4 linked regions of the Homo sapiens genome follow. The protein of the gene in region 1 interacts with the protein of each later gene in a pairwise test. Each region holds a gene or a part of one and is shown in the gene's direction. Other genes may lie near its edges.

What was found. Proteins that work in one complex are often made in the same cells at the same time.
Region 2: the proteins of PHOSPHO2 (region 1) and C1QTNF2 interact in binary tests that used the Homo sapiens proteins (3 or more experiments, as listed by UniProt).
Region 3: the proteins of PHOSPHO2 (region 1) and JPH3 interact in binary tests that used the Homo sapiens proteins (3 or more experiments, as listed by UniProt).
Region 4: the proteins of PHOSPHO2 (region 1) and GKAP1 interact in binary tests that used the Homo sapiens proteins (3 or more experiments, as listed by UniProt).

The regions. Positions count from the first base shown.
Region 1 is NC_000002.12:169,696,309-169,700,649, forward strand, and holds part of PHOSPHO2 (pyridoxal phosphate phosphatase PHOSPHO2), read left to right. Parts: intron 1-1,052; 5' UTR 1,053-1,223; intron 1,224-1,556; exon of another isoform or gene 1,557-1,674; intron 1,675-4,341. UniProt on the Homo sapiens protein: Phosphatase that has high activity toward pyridoxal 5'-phosphate (PLP).
Region 2 is NC_000005.10:160,367,642-160,373,027, reverse strand, and holds the start of C1QTNF2 (complement C1q tumor necrosis factor-related protein 2 isoform 1 precursor), read left to right. Parts: upstream 1-2,401; 5' UTR 2,402-2,516; intron 2,517-5,386. UniProt on the Homo sapiens protein: Involved in the regulation of lipid metabolism in adipose tissue and liver.
Region 3 is NC_000016.10:87,643,005-87,647,692, forward strand, and holds part of JPH3 (junctophilin-3), read left to right. Parts: intron 1-1,253; coding exon 1,254-2,031; intron 2,032-4,688. UniProt on the Homo sapiens protein: Junctophilins contribute to the formation of junctional membrane complexes (JMCs) which link the plasma membrane with the endoplasmic or sarcoplasmic reticulum in excitable cells.
Region 4 is NC_000009.12:83,769,085-83,773,772, reverse strand, and holds part of GKAP1 (G kinase-anchoring protein 1), read left to right. Parts: intron 1-4,688. UniProt on the Homo sapiens protein: Regulates insulin-dependent IRS1 tyrosine phosphorylation in adipocytes by modulating the availability of IRS1 to IR tyrosine kinase. Its association with IRS1 is required for insulin-induced translocation of SLC2A4 to the cell membrane.

The DNA.
Region 1 (4,341 bases):
AAAAATTTTATTACAAAATTGATGTAGAAAAAGTGTGAACTACGGTTGAACCAACCATAACCATCCCACTGCACATGTAAACATTTTCTAAAACAAAAACAGGATTATACTGTACACACTATTTTGTGACTTGCTTATTTAATTTGAACTGAATATCTTGGCTTTTACTGGCTGGATATTCTGTTATTTGCTATCACATGCATATCTTACTTAATTATTTCCCAATTCTTGGATGTCTGTGTAGTTTTTAATTTTCATTATTGTGTAAAGTATGCAGGATATTGTTACACTATGGAAACATTGCAGACATACCAAATAGACATAGATTGTGCTTTTGAAGAGAACAGTTAACTTTTTGGAATTTTAACAAATTGGTTTCAAAACAGATTCACATTCTTAAAACTAAATCTTTGTTCATATTCTTAATTTTTGGAGACATTTTAATTTCTAGTACAGCACTAAATGTCTATTGACAACAGAATGTGGAACTCCTCTATTATTAAACAAGTACAAAGAAAAAATGGACTCTGAAAATCTCAATCAGCTTAACACTGATTTTATCCACTGGACAAAAACTTATTTTCACATAACATTTCTTATTTTCGACACCAAGTCGATACCAAGTGGAAAGCAAAACTTTGTTCTCCTATTGCCAAAAGATGCTTTTCTGACATTAGAAAAACAACATAATTAGAAAATACAAAAAAAAAAATTTTTTTTTTTTTGACACGGAGTCTCGCTCTGTTGCCCAGGCTAGAGTGCAGTGGCGCGATCTCGGCTCACTGCAAGCTCCGCCTCCCAGGTTCATACCATTCTCCTGCCTCAGTCTCCCAAGTAGCTAGGACTACAGGTGCCCGCCACCACGCCCAGCTAATTTTTTGTATTTTTAGTAGAGATGGGGTTTCACTGTGTTAGCCAGGATGGTCTCCATTTCCTGACCTCGTGATCCCCCGCCTCGGCCTTCCAAAGTGCTGGGATTACAGGCGTGAGCCACTGCGCCCGGCCTGAAAATACAAATGTTAAAGCTTTTAAAATACTTTTATTAATTTTAGGAGTTAAGAAGTTTCCATTATTTTGCTCCAAACCAGAAGACTCTGTTCCCTGTATATAGAATAGGAGTAATATTTGAAAACAACTGGCTGATGTTTAAAACTGAAGATTGTCATGATTGTTTATCCTAATCCCAATGCTGAAGTAAGATTGTCTTGGAAATACTAAGTTGGGTAAGTATTTTTTAAAGGTTTATGTTGAGTGGTGAGAAAATACTAACAGAAAAAGATGGGAAAATTTTAAAAGTGCACTTTCAGATCAGCAGGGGAACTATGTTACCTCAGTCTCATGCTATTTTGAGGCTAATAATTCAGGAATTTCAGTAATTTGTGGCTAATTAAGTTTAGGTTTGAGGCAGTTTTCAAACAACAGTGAGTTACATTTGAAATTTGTTTTAATTATAAATTCAGAATTCTCAAAAAGCATATTTAATTTAAAATGTGCCTAGTTACAGTACTACTGTGATTGTCAATTATGCCTTATTATTTATTACATTGTTTCTGTAGGAAAGTGAATTCTGCATTTAAATTTCAGGGAACCAGTCAGAAGCATCTGGATTAGGCATTTAGTGATACAAGGATCCAGAATAACAAAAACTATGTACCAGCCACATTCACACAACAGGTGATACCCCTATAGGTTAATTATTCTCTAGATATTCTAAATTAAGAGACACAGAATACTTAGTCTTATGTGAGTCAAGAGCTCTATTCTGTCTTCACTACTGGGTGTCTACTGTTATAAACTGGAGAATATGTGTGGTTAAATGCCATGTTTTTCATTTTTAATTGATCTTTTTCTTATTGCTGTGGTTCTTTGCCTTTTTAGGATTTCTTGTAAAAACCTCAAAATGGTTATAAAGAGTATCACAGATGTGGTGTTATGGTTAGTGTGTACTTTGAAAGTAATGAATGTTTTTATGTAATTAAATATCTTTCTGCCAAAATTACCTACTTAGTGTTATATTTTTAAACTAATGAGTAGTCATTAAATATTCTATTTTTTAACACTAGAATTTGGTACTTAAAAGCATGAAGTCTGGAATCAAATCAACCTAAGATTCCAGCTCTGGCACTTTACTAACACCTAACCACTTCAAGATCCAGCTTATATATCTTTAAGATGAGGATAATAATGATTCCTACTTAATAGGGTTGTGACAATTAAATGGTATGATATTGCAAAGTTTTTAGGTCAGTGCCTGACATATAATGACTCTCAAAATTATTATTATTATCTGTTTACACACATTAATTATATCCTTTTCTGGATATTCTATATAGTTATTTTTTATAAATAATGTTTATTCTTACCATCAGTTGACCAGCTTATTCTTTCCTTTTCTCTTGAGATTTATAATTAATCACCTTCATTATATTCTAATGAAAACAGAGACATAAGTAATTGTCACACCACAAACAGTATGATTACTCAGGTGTATTCAAATTATTTGGCACCCCAGAGCTAAACTATCTAGAGCAGCTATAAATAAACATGTGAAAACTCTTAACCAAGTTACTTCTAGTTTGGAAGAATTAAATTGGCCTCCAGTTCTCAGGTAATTTGTTTAGAATATCATATAGAGTGTCAGCAATCATTTACTTATAATATTGATATTTAGAAATTGATTTTAAGCTAAATACTTTTTTAATTTTTTTGATTTCCACCTTTTAAGTTCAGGGGTACATGTGCAGGATGTGTAGATTTGTTACATAGGTAAGTGTGTGCCCTGATGGTTTGCTGCACAGATCATCACATCACCTAGGTATTGAGCCCAGCATCCACTAGCTGTTTTCCTGATGCTCTGCCTCCTCCCACCCCCACCCTCTGACAGGTCCCAGGGTATGTTATTCCCTTCCACGTGTTCTCATGATTCAGCTCCCACTTATAAGTGAGAACACATGGTGTTTGGTTTTTCTTGTTGTTGTTCCTGTGTTAGTTTGCTGAGGATAATGGCTTCCAGATCCATCCATGTCCCTGTAAAGGACATCATCTCATTCCTTTTTATAGCTGCATAATATTCCATGGTGTATAAGTACCTCATTTTCTTTATCCAGTCTGTCATTGATGGGCATTTAGGTTGATCCCATGTCTTTGCTATTGTGAACAGTGCTGCAGTGAACATACGCTTGCATGTATCTTTATAATAGAATGATTTACATTCCTTTGGGTATATACCCAGTAATGGGATTACTGGGTCAAGTGGTATTTCTGCCTCTACGTCTTTGAGGAATCACCACACTGTCTTCCACGATGGTTGAACTAATTTAATTTACACTCCTACCAACAGTGTAAAAGTGTTCCTTTTTCTCCACAACCTTGCCAGCATCTGTTATTTTTTGGCTTTTTAATAATAGCCATTCTGACTAGTATAAGATGGTATCTCGTTGTGGCTTTAGTTTGCATTTCTCTAATGATCAGTGATGTTGAGCTTTTTTTTCATATATTTCTTGGGCACATGTATTGTCTTCTTTCCAGAATTGTCTGTTTGTGTCTTTGCCCACTTCTTAATGGGGCTGTTTGTTTTTTCTTGTAAATTTGTTTAAGTTCCTTATCAAGGAACTACATGATTCTTATCAAAAAGGATTTTGGACAGATTTTATGGGCAGAGTCTTTAACTATTTGGGAGCTAAAGGTGTAAGAGAAGATAAAATGAAAAGAGCAGTGACATCGATGCCTTTCACTTCAGGGATGGTGGAACTTTTCAACTTTATAATAGTTGCTGGATATTAGACCTTTGTCAGATGGATAAATTGCAAAAATTTTCTCCCATTCTCTAAGTTGTCTGTTTACTCTGTTGATAGTTTCTTTTGCTGTGCAGAAGCTCTTTAGTTTAATTAGATACCATTTGTCAATTTTTGCTGTTGTTGCATTTGCTTTTGGCATCTTTGTCATGAAACCTTTGCCTTTGCTGTGTCCTGAATTGTATTGCCTAGATTTTCTTCTAGGTTTTTTATAGTGTTGGGTTTTACACTTAAGTCTTTAATCCACCTTGAGTTGATTTTTGTATATGGTGTTAAGGAAGGGGTCCAGTTTGTTTTCTGCATATGGCTAGCCAGTTATCCCAGCACCATTTATTAAATAGGGAATCCTTTCCCCATTGCTTGTTTTTGTTACTAAATACCTTTTCTTAAAAAGTTATTTTACATCTTCCAAGATTTCATGTTATGTTAAATTTGTTCAGAATTTTGGTTAGTACACAGAGAGTCCTTTATACATGATCTGTTATTTAATATGAGGATTGTAAATATTTTAATCTAATAAAATAAGTGTGGTTTGATTGATAATTTA
Region 2 (5,386 bases), on another chromosome or scaffold:
GTCCCCATACTCATAATAGGTAATAAATGTTTATAGACTGTGGCCGGGTGCAATGGCTCACGCCTGTAATCCCAGCACTTTGGGAGGCCGAGGCAGTTGGATGACATGAGGCCAGGATTTCAAAACCAGCCTGAGCAAAATAGTGAAGCCCCATCTCTACTAAAAGTACAAAAATTAGCCTAGTGTGGTGTTGCGCGCCTGTGGTCCCAGCTACTTGGCAGGCTGAGACGGGAGAATCGTTTGAACCCGGGAGGTGGAGATTGCAGTGAGCTGAGATTGTGCCACTGCACTCCAGCCTAGGCAACAGAGCAAGACTCCATCTTAAACAAACAAACAAACAAATGTTCGTAGACTGAATTCAAGCAGAGAGTAAAGACAGAGAGAGGCTAGGGAGAGGAAGTTCTAAGCCCCATTCTAGCTTGACACAGTTCCTGCAGCTCGTGGAACTGCCACCGGACAAGTATTTTGGATTGCATGCTACATGAAGCCATCACCACTGCAAGGAACCATAGGACAGGGACCCAGGAACTCTGCTAGGCTTCAGGAAACCTAGGTTCCAGGTATCCTTCAAAAGTTGGAAAAACATGTGCCCCCATTCATTCAATCAGTAGTGTTTATTAAATGTTTCACACTACCAGGTATAGCAGCACTGCCTTTCTTAACTTTTCATTAACCTTTTTTTTTTAACCAATGAGAGCATGCCAGTGATTTCAACCTCTGTCATGATGGAGCCACATGGATAACACACAGATATTACCACTCTACTCTAGGAGAGGGGCTTTCCTGAGCCCTTTAGATTCTGAATGGCCTCCAGGCATTCTAAGCAGTTTCCTCACCTTTCCAATTGCTGACACATCTGACCCAAGAGGCGGTGGATGGAAGTTTCCTTTCCAGCCATCTGTGTATCAACACCCTAAACTCCACTCCACATGTTATCATTCCTTCATTTTTTGAGCTCACACTTCCCCTACATTCAGACAAGTCTCAGTCATCTCTCAGGGTTCACCTGAAACATCAGTTTCCCAGGCCTTCCCCTGACTGCCCAGTTTATACTTTAAGCTTTTCTTTTCTATAACACTCATTTCACTTGTAACCACTTGTGTCATCCCCAGCTGGAGGACTCTAAGTTTCATGAGGGTAGGCATCAAGCCTATTTGTTTCCCTCTATGTCCCCAGCACCTTGCTTGGGGACTGACACACAATGGATGCTTATTAAATATTTGTTGAATGAATGTTTGTTAAGCCTACAAACTTTCTTTCTCAAATAGTATTTATGTGATATTAGTAATAATTCCCTACATAGTTCAATGGCTTACCAAACATCTTTATGAGTTAGTGTCCCAACTTTGGGGTAAAGGCAGTGCAGGTAATATTATTCTCCCATTTTTTTTAGAAAATAAAACACCATCTGTGAGATTATCTGACTTGATTAAGGTGGTGGATACAACATTAGAATTCAAATGCATATCTGTATTAAAATTCTGACTGTAAATTTTGTGTCACTTACCAGCTGTTAACCAGATGCTCTGGCTGTGCAGAGTGAAATATGGGTAGCTAGTGGAAGAGAGCAGTGGAAGGAACAGGGAGAAGCAAAAGCCAGGCCTTGGAGGATTTCCTTTCCTCCAGTGCCTGCTTGATTCCCAAATAGGATTGCTTTGCCTATCCTGGGAGCTGAGACCCTCCATAAGTCTCTCAATGACTTGAGGCTGGGCCAGAGTGAGTGAGACCAGTGAATCCTCACCTTCTGGGGAGAAGAGAAATGAGAGCTGGTACACAGGGGAACTCACCCACACTAGTGTGTATGTGCACACTCACATCCGGACAAAATCCACACCAAGGCATGCATAGAAATCAACACATAGAATGAGCCACTGCACAGTCATACACACATTTAAACATACACCCCACATACAGATGTCAAACCAACACACAGAATGAGCCCCTGCACAGTCACACACACATTTAAACATGCACCCCACATACAGATGTCTAGCCACTATCGTGTACATCCAACCACTGATGTGCCCTCCAGTTTTACACCAAGCTGCCATCTTGGACATGTGCATGCATGTGTACATACACCGAACAGCCCTGATGAAAATTTGGATAAACGCACGTACGCACACACACAACTAAACACATCCCTATGATTTATCATCACACTCAAGTACATGCACACCTTTGCAAACGCGTGGGAAACAATCACTCTGATCACTCTGGCGCACAAAACCTCCAAATACGCTAACAAGCTCTACAAACGCAGAGATGCATCGACACACCCGAGTTGTCATCAGCACTGCAAGTTTTTTCCAAACAGCTGCTAAAAAGAGAATGCTGCGCTGCGGGCCAGCCCACGTGACCGGGAGGAAGGCTCTCCCGCCCATGACGGGATGGGAAAACTATGCCTGGGGCCGACGCTCTGCCCGGCTGCTGCCGCTGAGGAAAGCCGGGACGCGGAGCCCCGCCGAGAGCTTCTTTGCTCCGGACGCCCCTGGACGTGGCGGGCAGCCGCGAGGGTGAGTGTCCCGCACCGCGGTCGGGCGGGGGCGGCAAGTGCGCGCGGGGAGGAGGAGGAGGAGGACTCGCACTGCTGCGGGCGGGGCGGGATGCGGAAGGTGGGAGAGCTGCCAGCGCGCCTTTATTGCGGGCTGGGCAGCTCCTGCATTCCTGCCTCTCGACTTCTACCTTCGTATTATAATACAAATTAACATGTTTTGAGTCCTTACTGTGTGCCAGGCTCTGTGCCCAGTGGTTTACCCGTTACAATAGTAACACCCGTAGCTCTGCCATTTATTGAGCGCCTACTTTGTGCCAAGTCCTGCTAGCACTTTACTTGTGCTCTTTCATTTTCATGACAACAGATTATCCCCGTCTACAAAAGAGGAACTGGGCTCAGAGACATTAATGACTTGGACAGGGTTGCACAGCTAGTAATTGATAAAAAAGGGACTTGAAGTCTGGTAAATCTGAGTCCAATACCCGAGCTAACAATCACAGTTAACATTTACTGAATGCATTATTTCACTTAACCTTCACATTTATTTAAATATATGATACAGACTGGCAAACTGAGCTCAAAAGGTATTGAACGGCAGGCAGAGATTTGTACTCAATGCCTCATGACTCTCTTCACTCTCCTTCCCCACCTAAACTACTTGTCTTAATATGCTTTGTCCTTATTTCTCCATCCCCACTGCTGCTGCCCCATTCTAGGACCTCGCTTTTCAGCTAAATAATTGCAGTGGGCCCTAATAGTCTCCCAGCCCAGGTCTCTCCTCTGACACCATGAGTCCCTTGCATTACCTCATTGTGATCCTCCTCTGCTCCTTGACCACAAAATTGCCCTGCTTGGAAGCCTGCAGAGGTCCCTTCCTTAGACTGGCCATCTCTCAGAGACCCTGTGTTTCCACCATGCTGAAGTAGCAGTAATAGAAAGACAATGTCTTACATAGGTCAATCCAAGGCTGGTGCTCAGTTAGCACTGTTAAAAATCTGTCCTCTCACATCCTTATTTTTGCCCTCCCTCTGCACCATTCTCTAATTTATTCTGTCATCTGGAGTAATTATATCAATTACTCCTGCTTTCAACTGCCCGATCCTCAAACTCTCCACACATTTCCAAGCATCACTACAGCCCTTCATTGTAACACATCAGATTCACTGCAGAATTTGTTTCCTCCCAAATGTCTGACTTCTCCCCATCTCCTAGCAGGGATACCACACTTACCAGTCTTCCAATCCTTAAACCTTAGGTTTACCTTTTGTTTTAAATGTTATAAAAGTAACGACGCTCATCACAAGAAATTCGAACAGTTCAAAAAGGTAGAAAGAGAAAAGTAAAAGCCCACACACCCCCTCCCAATTCTGAAAGGTAACCCCTTAACAAGATTGTGTCTTTTCGGAAAGTATTTCCCCAACCCTTCTGTACATATATATACTCTGTATTTGTGCTGTTTTTTTTTTTTTTAAACTCAAAGAGAAGCATACTTTACATTCCATGGTACAACTTGCTTTTTTCACTTAACAGTGTGTCTTCGCCATGTTTTCATATCTGCATATACAGGCTTACTTTGTTCTTCTAATGGGCATAGTGTGTCATTGTATGGATGAACTGAGATTATTTTTCACAAGGCTGGAGTCACGTTTGAAGCCACTCTGTCTCCATTGAATGTTCAGCAAGTTCTCCAAGGTGTCACTTTTTTCCTCTGCAAATCTCCCTATTCCTCCCCCCTGTCTCGCTATTCCTTCTCTTATGCTGACCCTGCTGATCAGACAGTCTCTCCTGCTGTCTCAATCACTGATGCTTCCTACTCCTAAATGTTCACTGTGGGGTAACAGAGTCTCTCTCCACACCCACAGCTTCACCCACTCCTTCTTCCTGGTCAAAGGCCTGCCAACCTTAATTTACCTCTGTGAGATGAACTCTTGCATAAATCAAACTTCTGTTAGTTATATTCCATTTTAGCTTCTCTTTTTTTTCTTTTTTCTTTTTTTTTGAGAAGGAGTCTCGCTCTGTTGCCCAGGCTGGAGTACAGTGGCACAATCTCGGCTCACTGCAATCTCCGCCTCCTGGGTTCAAGCAATTCTTCTGCCTCAGCCTCCCCAGTAGCTGGGACTACAGGCGCACACCACCTCACCCAGCTAATTTTTGTATTTTTAGTAGAGACGGGGTTTCACCATATTGGCCGGGCTGGTCTCAAACTCCTGATCTTGTGATCCGCCCGCCTCGGCCTCCCAAAGCGCTGGGATTACAGGCATGAGCCACCGCGCCCAGCCCATTCTAGCTTTTCTTTTGAAAGGAATTATGTGCCAAATATTTTTTCAAGCAAATAACCTTCCCCTGGATTTGTTCACTTCTGTTAAGTGGCTTACTCCTATAACACACATACACATGCGCATACACATCACTGCCCTGTTAGTAACTCCCCTGTTAGCTGAGGGGCCATGGTGGAGGAACATGAGCTCTGGGCCCTGAGCCAGCAGGCCTGAGTTCCACCCAAACATTGACCTAGGAAAAGTAATTTTTCCCTTTTCTGAGCTCTGTTTTCTCTTCTGCCAAGTGGAGATGACAGTATCAGCCTCTTAGAAGTGTGGGGAGATTTAAAGGAGATATGAACATCAAAACTTTGAAATAAGAACACACAACATACATGGAGAATCATTACTCTTTTCCTCTAGATTAGGGGTTGCAAACCCAGATACTGACAGAGACTGTGCACAATGTATATAGGAATGGGATGCATGACATTTGGGAGTGGTGAGGACTGTGGACACTGTAGAACACAGGCTCTCTGTCCTAGTCAGCGTGGGGCACCGTGACAACACCACAGACTGGGGAGCTGCAACAATAGACATTTATTTCTCACGATCCCTAGAGGCTGGAAGC
Region 3 (4,688 bases), on another chromosome or scaffold:
CCCATCATCCTACTGCAAAACTCTGTCCCTATTCAACACTGACCCCACAACCCTCCCCAGCCCCTGCACCCACCGCGCTTTCTGCATCTCTGAGCGTGACTACTCTAAGGACCCCGTGTACATGGAATCATCCGATATGTGGCCTTTTGTGCCCAGCTCAGTTCACTCTGTGTAATGTCTTCAGCGTTCATCCACATTGCAGCCTGTGTGAGAATGTTCTACCTTTTCAAGGCTGAATGATGTTCCATCGTATGGACGGACCGCATGGCGTCTGTCCATTTACCAGGTGATGGACTTGTGGGTTGCCTTTCCCTTTCCAGCCATGGAAACAGTGCTGCTGAGAACCCAGGTGCACAGGCAGCTGCTGCAGTCCCCACCCTCCCTTCTTCTGGGGATATCAGGTCTGCTGATTTTATGTCTGAAGGTCATGGGCCACTGTCCCTTCCCTATGCCCTTGAATCTCTTCCATGGTGTGTCCACTGTGTGGTCTTCCTGGATACCTCCAGCAATGGGGAGCTCACTGTCTCCCAGAGCAGCCCATTCAGGGCTTAGTGTGTAGCCCACACCTGTGTCCCTGTAGCTGCCACTCATTAGCCTCCTAACCCAGGACGCGTTTCCTTGTGCCCTTGGCAGGGGCTCCGTATTCACTCTGGGTTCTGTGGTCCTCACTCTGCACCACAGACTCTGATGCCTCCCTTCTCCCTCCCCGATTTCCAAGAGAGAACAAGATCTAGCCATGAGAAGCAGGATGGAGGTGTCTTCAAAAACAGCCACTGGTGATAGAAGTTGTAGGAAGGTACCATGGTCTGTCTGCCTCCACGCAAACCTCACCAGGTTTCATCAAGATAGCACACCAGGAGTGGTGTGGCTCATGACTGTAATCACAGCACTTCTGGAGGCTGAGGCAGGATCACTTGAGCCCATGAGTTAGAAACCAGCCTGGCCAACATAATGAGACTGCCATCTCTACAAATAATTTACAAAGTAGTGGAGCATGGTGGTGCACGCCTGTAGTCCCAGCTGCGCAGGAGGCTGAGGCAGGAGGATCGCCTGAGCCCAGGGGTTCCTGGCTGTCGTGAGCTGTGATGGTCTCACTGCACTCCAGCCTGGGCAACACAGCGAGAACCTGTCTCAAAAAACACAAAACAACAGGAAGCTCAGACAGGACTGTGGCTGCTTCAACCCTGTCCGTGGCCAGGCTGTGCCCCCTCCTCTGTCGCTGGGCACTCACCCCTCTCTCATTTTCTCCCCAGGGACCTACCAGGGCCAGTGGGTCGGTGGCATGCGCCAGGGCTACGGCGTCCGGCAGAGCGTCCCGTATGGCATGGCCGCGGTCATCCGCTCACCCCTGAGGACGTCCATCAACTCCCTGCGCAGCGAGCACACCAACGGCACGGCGCTGCATCCCGACGCCTCTCCGGCGGTGGCCGGCAGCCCGGCCGTGTCCCGCGGGGGCTTCGTGCTCGTGGCCCACAGTGACTCCGAGATCCTCAAGAGCAAGAAGAAGGGGCTGTTTCGGCGCTCGCTGCTGAGTGGGCTGAAGCTGCGCAAGTCGGAGTCCAAGAGCAGCCTGGCCAGCCAACGCAGCAAGCAGAGCTCCTTTCGCAGCGAGGCGGGCATGAGCACCGTCAGCTCCACGGCCAGCGACATCCACTCCACCATCAGCCTGGGCGAGGCTGAGGCCGAGCTGGCGGTCATCGAGGACGACATCGACGCCACCACCACCGAGACCTACGTGGGCGAGTGGAAGAACGACAAACGCTCCGGCTTCGGCGTGAGCCAGCGCTCGGACGGGCTCAAGTACGAGGGCGAGTGGGCCAGCAACCGGCGCCATGGCTACGGCTGCATGACCTTCCCGGACGGCACCAAGGAGGAGGGCAAGTACAAGCAGAACATCCTCGTCGGCGGCAAGCGCAAGAACCTCATCCCCCTGCGGGCCAGCAAGATCCGCGAGAAGGTGGACCGCGCCGTTGAGGCCGCTGAGCGGGCCGCCACCATCGCCAAGCAGAAGGCTGAGATCGCGGCTTCCAGGTAGGAGGGCGAGGGGGCGGGGGGCCCTTCTTGGTGCCCAGAAGGTGTTTGTGAGCCCAGTCTGTTCAGTCCTGCTGTCGCTCAAGGCCTTGGGCTAGGCCCAGTTTGAGGCCTACACTGGTGTTTCTCAAACTATGCCCCCATGGAACCCTAGGGTTCCCTGGAGGTTCTCAGAGGTGACTGTGGTCAGGATTGGTGCAGAGGAATGGTTGATTTGTGGGGGTGTAGAGGCCTACAGCCTCCTTAAACTGAGCAGTGTCTCTTTGTTCTATATGCTGATGTTTAGTGTAAAATATTGGTGAATAAAGAAGGTGGTCTGTTCCGTTAGTACAATGCATTGGAGTGCTGCTGTGCTAGCTAGTAGGGGTGACACCACCAGGTGGGGGTGGCAGGTCCAGCACTGCAGGGCTGTGGGAGGTGGCTAGGAGCTGCCTCAGCTACCCAGACCTGCGATCTAGATTCTTCCGGGACCCTGGGAGATGGCAGCAGTTGGGAGGCCAATTCCGAGTGCCTGGCAAGGGGCTCATGCAGGCCTGGTGCTTTGGGGGCAGCCGCTGTTCTGAATCGGCTGCATGACTTACGGAATTTGGGGTCCAGTGGGGCCTCTAGGCCCTAAGGAATGGGTCCAGAGGTGACTGTGGGTGGGATCGACGTGGCTTTTGGGTACCTTTAGGGGTGGGTGCAGGATGGGGCCTTTAGGGCTGGAGGAAGGTGCCCAGGGTCTGGCTCCTGTGGAGGTGAGTGTGTGAGCCAGGGGCTGGTCCCCGCCAAGCTGTGGCTGGCAGGAGCCACCTGCTGCAGGTTGGAGGAAGTTCCCCTGTGGAAAGCCACGGGCCCCACAGGTAGGCATTTGGGTTCTAAAGTAACTGAGGTTACTAAAGGGCTTTGTCAAGACTTGGGAAGGCATTTCAGAAAACCCAGAGCCTTTGCTTTCCACCGGCATTTGCTTTCCTGGGCCAGACGAGGGCCCTTGGGGTAGCCCGGAGAGTCTTGGGGCAGGGATCTGGGAGCTGCGGGGGAGTCCATGGGCTGCCCAGGCAGGAGGCTTCCCAGGGCACGTTCCCCTGCGTCTTTCTGGATGGCTTTGTGTTCTCAGCCAGGGGCAGACCTGGAGTTCCTCCAGGAAAGCTCCCAGCCTGGGTGCGGCTCAGCCCTTCCCGACCTGTCGCTAATTAAAGTTCAGCCCATTTGGTTCTGATTTTCAGTGACCTTTGATCTATAGTGAAAAACAAAAATGGTGGCTGCGGTTTGTTGGCAGAATATGTTGCTCGCGACTTCTATTGTTTTAGAGGGAATCAAGATCGATTCCAAGAAGCTGAAAGAAACATGGAATTACTACCTGACACCGAGGTCCAAACTCGCTGTTTGCCCCTCCCTGCTCCCTCAGAAATGTTCAGGCAGGGAAATAAACAGCAGCCCACGTGTGACTACTCATCTGGGGTTTTAAGAACAAATTAGAATCAGTAGTTATTTTTTCCATCATAAATGTAATACTTGTTCCACAGGAAAATAAATAACACTGAGAAGGGAGAAAGCAGCATTAGCTCTGGTCTGATGGATCGGCCGAGCGCTCTCCTTGGCATTTTGGTGAATTTCTTTCCTCTGTGTTTTGTTTTTCGACCCTTTCTATTTTGTATAGTTGCTTTTTTGACCCTAGTGGACAAGAAGCAGTTTTGGGGGCTGGGGGACAGCGGCGTCACGGAATTGAGGAAGCTCGTGGCAGCTTCCGTGTGACCTGCAGATTGGTTCATGAGTTCATTGGTTCATGAGTTCTCAGCAGCTCGAGGACTTAGTGGACAGTGCCCTGCAGGACTGAGCTTATTTCACAGCCTTGGCACTGGGTGGATGTCTGTAGGACTGGGGGGACCTGCGACCTGAGATAGTTTTCAGACGAATTCCCCTAGACATTAAGAGAAGCGGGTTCCCATTAAGGAGCCCAGGTGGCATGGACAGGGCTGGGGGCAGCACAGGTGAGGAGCTGCTCCAAGGCAGGTTGTCAGCCTCTCTGGACCTCAACTTCTAATCTCTGAAGGCCTGTGAAGCTTAGGTGGTAACAGCTCCCTTCCTGGGGCATCCAACCTCTTCCTGGGGTTTTGGGGGGCCCAGGGGCTCTGTGGAGCATTGCTGGGGGAGATGCCTACGTATAAGTGGGCATCATGCTGGGGTGAAAGCCCAGGGGCTGGGCCGGGAGGGCGAGACCTGAGACCCATGCAAAGGAGCCGGGGCCAGGGTGGGGTGGGCACGGCTCCTACTGAGTCCCCAGCCCTTGGGACGCTGGCCAGCCAGCCTTGGCATGGCCAGCATCCCTGTGTCTCCTGGGGAGGCATTTTACTTAATGGACAGAAGGACAGACAGACGGGTGGAGGGAGTGAGAGGGAAAGGATGGGTTTGCAGGCTGGTGCAGCTGTGAAACTGACGGAGCCCACCCCCTGCCAACCCCCCGACAGCCTTTGAGGCCCAGCAGCCCATGCTCCCTGGCAGGTTGCGGCTTGCCTTCTGCACTGGCGGAGTCCGAGCTGACTCCGTCCCTTCGCCCGAGCGGGCGTCGCGGGGAGGGAGGTGGTTCCTGCTTCCGCATGCGCACAACTGGGGTCTTGGATCGTAGCTCCTTTGTGAGAAAGGGACTGGCTCACCCGCCATGTCCTGCTGTCCACACA
Region 4 (4,688 bases), on another chromosome or scaffold:
ATATGGATGAAAATTTTCATAATAAAAAGTTAAGAAACCAAACAAAATGAAATTATATTATTTAGTGATGCATCTGTAAAACAACAAAAACATGGAAATGATCAACACTAAGTTGAGGTAATGGTTACCTTGTCGAGGCACGAAGATGAGACTAAGGGAAGAGTATATAGATGGGCCATAAGGTCTGTAGGTAATATTCTAGTTTTTAAGTAGAATGGTGTGGGATCAAGTGTGTTTTTTTTTTAAACAGCTGTATTGAGTTATAATTTAAATACTATAAAATTCACCCATTGCAAGTATATAATTCACTCATGGTTGTGCAGCCATAAACACAGTCTAGTTTTGGAACATTTCCATAATCTCAGAAAATTCCCTCATAGCCATTTGTAGTCAATCCCTACTCCCACCTTCAGCCCCTGGCAACCACTGATCTACTTTCTGTCTCTAGAGATTTGCAGTTTCTTGTAACCTATAATGGACTCATAGAATGTATAGTCTTTGTGTTTGGCTTCTTTCACTTAGCATAATGTTTTTGAGGTATATCCGTGTTGTAGCATGTGGCAGTAGTTAATTCAGCCGTATCACTGAATAGTATTTCATTGTATAAATGTTGTTTATTCACCAGGTTATAGGCTTGCTATGCACATTTGACGTATGTCTTTGTGTGGATATGTTTTAATTTCTCGTAGGTGGTTACTTAGGAGTGAAATTGCTGGGTTGTGTGGTGAATTTATGTCTAACTTTTAAAGAGTCTGTCAAATTGTTTTTCAAAATGACTACCATTTTTCACTCCCACCAGCAATATATGAGAGTTCTAGCTCCTACGCATCCTTGCCAACGCTTGATATTATCTCTTGTTTTGATTATAGCCATTCTAGTGGGTATGTAATGTATTTGATTGTAGTTTTAATTTGCATGTTCCTAATAACTGGTGATTTCAGACATCTTTTCATATGCTTATCAGCCATTCTTATATCTTCTGGAAATATCTATTCAAATTTTTTGCTCATTTTTGTGTATTTTCTTATTGATTTGTATGATTTCTTTATATGTCTGAAAACAAGTCCTCTATCAGATACATGATTTGCAAATACTTTCTTCCAGGCTATGCCTTGCCTTTTCTTTTTAATTTTTTATTGATACAAAATAGATGTACATATTTTGGGGATGTCTTTTTGGTTTTTTAATTGTGTCTTTTGAAGCACAAAAGTTTTAAATTGTTATCAAGTCTAGTTTGTGACTTTATGGATTGTACTTTTGGTGTTCATTAAATAAATCTTTGCCTAACACAAGTCATGATGATTTATTCTAGAGGCTTTATAGTTTTAGTTCTTCCTTTAAGAGTCTGTGATCCATATTTTGAGTTAATTTTTGTGAATTGTGGCATATGCATAGACACTTCTCCCAGCACAACACTCTTATATCCTTAATAAAATACCTTGACACCTTTTTAAAAAGTAAATTTGATCATAAATATGAAGGCTCATATCTAGATTCTCAATTCTGTTCCATTGATCTGTATGTCTATACTTACATAAGCACCATACTGTCTTATTCATTGTGTGCTTGGTACCAAATAGGTGTGCAGAATTTGAATTAAACTGAAATTGAATTGGCTAGACTTATTATGTTAAATATTTTATGTTCTTACATTTGCCATATTTTAATCTTTTTTTCTGGTGTGTGTGGGATGTAGTAGTTGATTTATTTTTGCTTTTCTCCCCCCTATAGTTTGTTATCAGTATCTTTTGAAAAAAATCCCATCTCTAGATCAAAAAGAAACTTTGTGGCCTCACTCAAAAGTACTTAAGGGACAGAATGCCCTTTGTGATAGGCATGATGTGATGGTAATGGGAGCAACTATCAACAAGCAGGGACATTGGCTAGAATTATAATTATAATTATAATCTCTAGTGATATGAAATCCAGAGGCTGATTAGTTGCTAGCAGTATGTTATTCTTTCCACAGAAGCTCAGCAGTGGTTTTTAGCATTTCTGTATTTATTGCTGTAAAATAAAATCTTACAAGAATATACTGGAACTATTTTATGAAGCAGTAATTTTAGAGTTATGCCTGTATCCCTTAGCAATCGCACATGCATTCTTAAGGCCATAATTACTTGGGGGGGAAATAATACTTGCTCATCAACTTCTCATGATGTTTATGAAATTCAAATAAGGTAATGTTTGTTTAAGTGCTTTGCAAGATATAAAGTGTTGCACAACCATTTTTAATGTCATTCATATAGTAAGCACTGGTATACAAATAAATTTTTTTCAAACACTTTACTTTCTAAGATAATGTGAAGTGAAAAGTATGAATAATTATTGAACCTTGGGGTCGTTTGCCCACAGATACAATTGTGAATAGCTGTAGTTCAAGAATGTGGGGACAGGCATGGTGGCTCACACCTATAATCCTAGCACTTTGGGAGGCTGAGGCGGGTGGATCACCTGAGGTCAGGAGTTTGAGACCCACTGGCCAACATGGTGAAACCCCATCTCTGCTAAACAAACAAACAAACAAACAAACAACAAAAAAATTAGCCAGGAGTGGTGGCATGTGCCTGTAATCCCAGCTATTTGGGAGGCTGAGGCACAAGAATCGCTTGAACCTAAAGGGGTGAGGGTTGTAGTGAGCCGAGATTGGGCCACTGCACTCCAGCCTGGGTGAGAGTGAGACTGTCTCAAAAAAAAGAGAATGTGGGACATAGGTGAAACCAATGAGTGAGAGGAATGTTTTCTTCAGTCTCTGTCTTCATAACAGGATGTTGAAGAGGAAATGCTCCTTTTCTTGGAGAATGTAAAATTTCTAATATATAATTGGATAGACAGTGATAAAAATCTTATCTTTTAAAAATCTTCTATTGGCATGTGGAATTTATATAAAAATTATTTTAAAACGTAATGTAACGCCGGACGCAGTGTCTCATACCTGTAATCCCAGCACTTTGGGAGGCTGAGGCGGACAGATCACCTGAGGTCAGGAGTTCGAGACGAGCCTGGCCAACATGGTGAAACCCTGTCTCTACTAAAATACTAAATTACCTGGGCGTGGTGGCACATGCCTTTAATCCCAGCTACTCAGGAGGCTGAGGTGGGAGAATTGCTTGAACCTGGCCTGGGAGGAAGAGGTTGCAGTGAGCCGAGATCTTGCCATTGCACTCCGCCTGGGCAACAAGAGTGAAACTCCGTCTCAAAAAAAAAAAAGCAGTGTAAACGATTGAGCAACATAAAACTATAATAATCAAGACAATCTGGTACTGGCATAAGAATAGACATTTACAGATTGATAGAATAGGATTAAGAGTTCAGAAACAAACTATTGATTTTGGACAAGAGTCCCAACGCAGTTAAAAGGGCAAAAGAATAATCTTCTCAACACATGATGCTGGATATTGTCATGCAGAAGAGTGAATTTCGACCCTTTCTTCACACCGTGTACAAAAATTAACTCAAAATGGATCACAGAACTAAACACATGAGCTAAATCTGTAAAACTTTTAGAAGAAAATATAGGAGTAAATTTTTGAGTTAAGCAATGGTTTCTTGGATAAAATTGGACTTCATCAAATTTAAAAACTTCTGTGATACAAAGAATACCATCAAGAATATGCCAAGACAAGCCATGAAATGGTAGTAAATGTTTGTAAATCATATTCAATAAGATATAGACATTTAGAATATATAAAGAACTGTTACAACTCAAAAAAACAAGTAACCCAGTTAAAAAATGGGCAAAGGATCTGAGAAGACATTTCTCCAAAAAGATATACAAATCTTCAATAAGCACACAAAAGGGATGTTCAGCACCATTCGCTGTCAGGGAAATGCGACTGAAAACCGCAATGAGATAGCACTTCACACCCGGTGGCTATCATGAAAAAGGCAGATAACAACAAGTGTTGATGAGAATGTGGAGAAATTGCAACCCACTTGACTGCTGATGGGATTGTAAAATGATGGGCTGCTTTGGAAAATTATCTAGCGATACCTCAAAAGGTTAAACATAGAGTCACCAGCAGTTCTACTCTTAGGTATATACCCAAGAGAATTGAAAATACGTCCACACAAAATCTTGTGCATGAATATTATAGCAGCACAATTCGTAATAGCCAAAAAGTAGCAACAACCCAAATGTCTATCAACCAACAAATGGAGAAATAAAATGTAGAATGGGATATTTGGCAATAAAAAGGAATGAAGTGCTGATACAAGCCATATATGGATGAATCTTGAAAATATTTTGCTAAGTCAGAGAAGCCAGTCAAAAGTTCACATATTGGATTATTCTGTATATACAAAATGTCCATAATAGGCAAATCTATAGAGACAGTAAATAGATTAGTGTTGCCTGGGGCGGGTGGCAGGTATTAGGAGGAAATGGGGAGTGACGGCTAATGGGTACAGTTTCTTTTTGGGGTGATGGAATTGTTATATAGTTGATTGGGGTGATGGTTGTACAACTCTGTGAATATATTAAAAAACCAGTGTCTTGTACACATTAAATTGGAGAGTTGTTCAGTATATAAATAACAGAAATTTAAAAAGCAATATCTAAGTCCAAAAAATATGAAGTATGAAAGGAAATTTCCAAATGTGTCTCTACTGTTTTATCTTCTGGAGATGGAGAAGGATCAAGTCGTTGATTGTCTCTTAGCTGTCATTTTTCTTTCTTTTTTTATCCT